Regions from separate parts of the Homo sapiens genome. Here region 2 is linked to region 1. Evidence: fine-mapped expression QTL. A gene starts in region 1. The other region holds a variant in brackets. All regions are shown on one strand. Distances are between the middles of the regions.

Region 1 (2,909 bases):
CAACAAGAGTGAAACTCCGTCTCAAAAAAAAAAAAAATTAACCAGAGTCGGGTGTAATGGTTCACTCCTGCAATCCCAGCATTTCCGGAGGCTGAGGTGGGCGGATCGATTGAGCACAGGAGTTAGAAACCAGCCTGGGCAGTATGCCGAAACCCTGTCTCCACTAAAAATACAAAAACTAGCTGGGTGTGGTGGCAGGTGCCTGCAGTCCCAGCTACCTGGGATGTAAGGTGGGAGGATCACTTGAGCCCCGTAGGTGGAGGCTACAGTGAGCTGAGATCTTGCTGCTGTACTTCTGGAGACCCTGTTTCAAAAAATAAATTAACCAGAAACCAGCCCAGTGCAATAACTCACACCTGTAATTCCAACATTTTGGGAGGCTAGGCGGGAAGATCACTTTAGACCAGGGTTCGAGACAAGCCTGGGCAACAGAATGAGACCCTGTCTCCACAGAAAAATTTAAAAATTAGCCAGGTGTGATGGCATCTGTAGTCCCCATGACTTGGGAGGTTGAGGTGGGAGGATCGCTTGAGCCCAGGAAGCCGACGCTGCAGTTCAGCGGTGATCGTTCCACTACACTCCAGCCTGGGTGACAGAAGGAGACCGTCTCTAAAAAGATAAAAAAATTTAAAGAAAAACCAACAAAAAAATTAACCTGAAACCCCAGCATCTCTTGCAGTTCTGAGATGGGACAATTTGAGGGTAAAAGGTGGTGGTGAAGCCTCCAGATAGAATAGGGACAGAACTTCTCAGCTGAACGGGGGCCCATTCCTCAGTCCAAGAGAGAGCGAGACAGAGATGCACCCCTCCACACTCACTTTATAAACCAAGAAACTGGAGCACAGAAACGTAAATTGATTTGTCCAAGGTCAGCAAAGGATCAGCGCCAGAGCAAAAGCAAAGGGCTAATAGAGAAACATCCTCTCCCCGCTCCGCAGCAACGTCAGAGACTTTCTGAGGTGAGATGCATGCTCCTGCAAAGCGTCAGCAGTGACTCACATCGATTCCAGGGACAGCGGCGCCAGCCCGGGGCCCCCGCGGGCGTGGGCCTGCTGGGAGGTGGCTCTGCGGGAGCGACGCGCGAATACAGGCCGCAAATGATAGGCGGGCGGCGCAGGAGCCCCATCTGGAATCCCCGGCGGACTCGCACCGCCTCCGGTTGACAACAATGCTAATATGAGACGCCACTGCTAGCAGCTGCAGGCTGAGCTGCTCTGGCGAGTCAGACGCCCTTTAAGCCTCAGTTTCCCCATTTGTGAAAGGAGCCAGCGCCGCTCAACAACCCCACTCCCACCGCCACCCCTGGGGCGCTCGGCCGTCGAAGGCTAAGTGAAGAAGGCCGAGGGGGCAGGCAGAAGGCGCACACGGGCGCCACGCCCTCCTCGCCCCGCACCCCTGTTCCAGGCAGGTGACGGGGAAAGGAAAGGGACCCTGACTCTACCGTAAACAGGCGGCGCCGCCGCGTGGGGGGAATCGAGCGCGCGCCTCCGCCCTCTGGGGCGGGGACGGATTTAGGGTCCGGGTCAGGCCGGGGTCGCCACCTCCGGATCCAGCGGTCCAGATGTCCAGCCGGCTAGTCTGTTAGCTCTCTCGAGCTCCCGGCCTCACGCGCTTCCAGCACCACCTGCTCTCCGCACCGCGGCGGATGATGGCGGAGGAGGAGGATTTTGAAAGCCGGCAGTTTCTTTGCTTCGATTTGATTTGTTCGAGGCCCCGGCCGGCTTGCCCTCGCCCCGCTCGCGCGGCCTCTCGGGTAGAGTAGTCCGGTTCCCCATCTGGGAGCGCGATGGGGCGCGCACCGCGAACTACCCGTCCCATGGCGCACCGCGCGCAGAGCGTCCTCCACCGCCCTCCTCTTCGCCCTCCCCTGGTGGCTTCTGGCTCTTTCTCGCAGAGACCGCAGGGAGGTGTTCAGCCGGGAGCGCCCAGAGACTACAATTCCCAGAATGCGTTGCACCCAGGTCCCTCAGCTCTTCCGGAAAGGTTTTGTTCGCGTAACTTTGTTGATAACAGGTACTGCTGGCTGCTGGGTCTCTTGGGCAAGACACAGGTATCCATTTCCCGAAAGAAAAGACTCTTTTCCGTCCCATGAAACTGAAAGGGCATTCGAAGGCTTCCACATAAATATGCACAAATTACCTGATAATTAAAAAGGGGAAATAGTAACTATCGTAGAGAAGCTCCGCAGACACCACTTGAACGGCCACGTTAACATCAACAGCAGGACAAGCTGACATTCATCGCACGCTTTCTGTGTGATGCACTGAGAAAAACACGGCGTCACCGTCCGGTCTATAATGCATGACCTTAGTCTAATCATGAGAAACCCAAGCTGAGGGACATGGTACAGAATAACTGATCTGTACCCTTCCGGAAATGTCTGTATTATGTAAGACAAAGAAAAACTGAGGAACTGTTGCCGATTACAGGAAACGAAAAAGACAACTGAATGCAAGACATGGTCCTGGATCGGATCCTGGGTGGGGATTGCTATAAAGGACAATACTGAAACAGCAAAACTTGACTATATTAGATAATAGTATTGTATCAATGTTAAATTTATTAATTTTGATTATGGTACAGGGTTATGTAAGAGACTGCCCTTGTTCTTGGAAAAAAATGCTGAAATAATTAGGGACAAAAAGGACATGATGTCTGCAACCTTTATGGTTAAAAGAAATATACCTATACATATACATAGAGAAAGCAGAGACACAAATGTGGCAAAATGTTAATCAGTTAATCTGGTTGAAGAATATGGGAGTTCTTTGAACATTTTTGCAACTTTTCTGTAGGTGTGAATTTAAGCATAAAAACACAAACAGCGTTTTTTTTTTGTTTTTTTTTTTTGAGATGGAGTTTCACTCTTGTTGCCCATCTTGGCCTCCCAAAGTGTTGGGATTATAGGC
Region 2 (2,909 bases), 40 kb before region 1:
TCATTTCCATTGTGTGAACATCCCACGATAATGGCAAAGGAGGTTAAATACAGCTTAATTTATTCATCTTTTCCTCACTCCTAAGGCCTTGAAGATACTCACTTACACTATCTCCTACAAGCTCTCTCTCTCTTTTTTGAGACAGGGTCTCGCTGTCAGTCATGCTGGAGTGCAGTGGCACGATCACGGCTTGCTGCAGCATCCACTTCTTGGGCTCAGGTGATCCTCCCACCTCAGGTTCCCAAGTAGCTGAGACTACAGGCATGCATCACCACACCCAGCTCATTTTTGTATTTTTAGTAGAGACAGGGTTTTGCCATGTTGGCCAGGCCAGTCTTGAATTCCTGGGCTCAAGTGATCTGCCCGCCTCGTCCTCCCAAAGTGCTAGGATTACTACAGGCGTGAGCCACCACACCCGGGTGAAGCTCTATAGTTTTGCTTAATTTTTAAAACATTAACTGAGGTAAAATATATTAATACATGAAATCTATCATTTTAACCATTTTTATGTGTACAATTCAGTGCATTAAGTACATTCACAATGTTATGCAACCATCACCACTCTCCATTTCCAGAACATCTTCATCATCCCAGAGAATCTGTTTGCAGCCTCACTCCCTATTCCACCCTTCCCCTAGCCCTGGCAACCTCTACCTTCTTGTCTCTGAATTTGCTTATTCTAGATGCCTCATCTAAATGGAATCATATTTGTCCTTTTGTGTCTGGCTTATTTCATTTAACATGTTTTCAAAGTTCATCCACGTTGTAGCTGGCATCAGAACTTAATGCCAGCCCCACACCCACCCCCTACCGTATCAACTCACACAGAAGACAGGGGACAGGGCCAGCAGTATCCTCTGCCACCTGGTCACCTACGTGGCCGACTGCCAATGAGAAAATATTGCCCTCTAAGAAACCTTGGAGGGACTTCTTGGAGGCCGTTTGTGGGGGACATGGGCTCCCAAAGCACATACATGGTGTAGGGTAGGAGGTAAGGAAGGTTGGCTGGGCTGTCCTCACATATGTGGCAGTGGAGCAAAGGATCCCAAGGGAGGTGGCTTCCATAGTGAAGGAGCAACGCAGAAGCCAAGCGAGCTGCAGCCCAAAGGCAGGGTGCTGGGTGAGGTGTGGCCAGGCAGGAAAATGGGCCCCCACTCAGGACTGCCACTTCCCAGGTAGTGGCCTGAGGCCGAGGCCGGGCCCTTCTGCAGGGCTGACTGCCCCACAGACTGCTGCGGGGCCGCATGCTCTGCCGAGGTGGGACTCCACGTACAA[C/T]GGCCCCCGAGACTATCCCGCTTTCAGTGAGAGTTTCTGAGTCTCTGAAGCTGCCACACGACTTTATTTGTGAAGCCCCCGGGCACAGCCCAGACACACACAGAGCACAAAGGGGAAAGCATGGGGCAGTCACGGGTGCTCAGGGAGGTCATACAGCATCTGCCCAGTCCAGACCCTACCGCTCCCCTGCCCCAGGAGGTCCTTTAAGAGCAGCGTCCAGATGCAGCTCGGACATTGGGGACCCTGCCTCTCCCTCCCCAGACTGGAGAACAGCTTTGGGTTGTCAACACTCCCCCTCCAGCCAGGCCAGTCACAGACGACATCTCAGCAGCCAGGAGAAGGCCCACTAGGTCCGGGGCCAGCGCAGTCCCAGCAGCTCCTGCTCCTGGACAATCTGGTGTCTGCCTGTCCACACGGTGTGGGGCCCAGGGTTGCCCTCTGCCAACAACCCCACGATCCGACCCCCACAGTCCCACCCATGGCATTCTCTGCTCTTCAGGCTGAGCGGTCAGCACAGTGGTATGGATGGTAGGGGTGACAGCTGCCGCAGGACCAGGGCTTGGTGACGAGAAGCAGCCCCAGGCAGGGCAGGAAACAACCCAATCACAACACAGAGGGGAAGGACAGCACGCGGGCAACTCCCTGGGTTCTGGCTCCGCCAGGGAGCCGGGCCGGAAGGCAGGTGGGTGGGGACGGCCATCAGGGCCCAGGCGGAGATCAGCAGAGCGCCCTCAGGTGGAGGTGAGTTTAATGGCGGAGCAGCTCACAGCCCTTTCCCCTGGGGGCCAACTCCCCACAACAGAGCAGGGCTGGGCCAGCAGAAGACGTTAAAACCCAAATCCCGACAGGAGGCACAGACCTGCACATGCGCCACACCCACACACATACTCAGGGGACTGACAGGACACATGGGACACAGACCCGCCCTGCCTGTGGCCAGAGTCCTGTCCAAGGCAATGGCGTAGGCTGCGCCTCAGTTCATCCGAGTCCCTCCCCAGCTCACTGGTCCAGGCCAAGGGATGGGAGAGGCTTTGAGTCTAGACCTTGTACAGCGTCTGCAGCAGACTGTGGCGGGCGAAGGAGCAGGATTCCAGGGCGCTGTTGGGCCTGCGGGGAAAGAGGGGTCAGCAGGTCGGTGGATGCCTCTTGGCCTGTTTTCCAAGTGTGGGGGCCATTTTGGTGCCAGACTCATTTTTGTTAATTTGCACAACGACTCAGCAAGAGAGACATTAGCCCTCTGCCTTCTGCACACCGTGGGTGGGGATGGGAGGTGCGAGAGGCTCAGAGAGCCAGGCACCCAACGCCACACAGCCCAGAGCTGGCCAGAATGAAGGCCCCCTCAGCCAGGCTCTCCAAGGGCCCTTCCAGCAGACATAGGCCAGGGAATCCTTACTGGCTGCCAGTGGCCACATAGGACTGGCCCACTAGAGTCCAATCTGGATCATAAGTAAATGGCTAGCCATTGTTTTTTTGGTTGCTTTTTTTCTTTTTCTTTTTCTTTTTTTTTTGAGACGGAGTCTCGCTCTGTCACCCAGGCTGGAGTGCAGTGGTGCGATCTCGGCTCACTGCAAGCTCCGCCTCCCGAGTTCACGCCATTCTCCTGCCTCAGCCTCCCGAGTAGCTGGGACTACAGA

What was found.
Region 2: its variant is fine-mapped to the expression of RANGAP1 in whole blood (TOPMed, PIP above 0.99).

The regions. Positions count from the first base shown.
Region 1 is chr22:41,284,545-41,287,453 of GRCh38, forward strand. RANGAP1 (Ran GTPase activating protein 1) reads right to left here and starts at 1,643. Exons shown (of 16, transcript NM_002883.4): 1 at 1,442-1,643. RefSeq lists enhancers at 1,346-1,415, 1,846-2,065, 2,096-2,165, 2,486-2,535.
Region 2 is chr22:41,244,291-41,247,199 of GRCh38, forward strand. RANGAP1 (Ran GTPase activating protein 1) reads right to left here. Exons shown (of 16, transcript NM_002883.4): 16 at 489-2,382. The coding sequence ends at 2,313. Among named protein-coding and RNA genes, the nearest start is that of CHADL, 4.8 kb to the left of the region's middle. The variant C/T (reference allele first, on the strand shown) is at 1,276.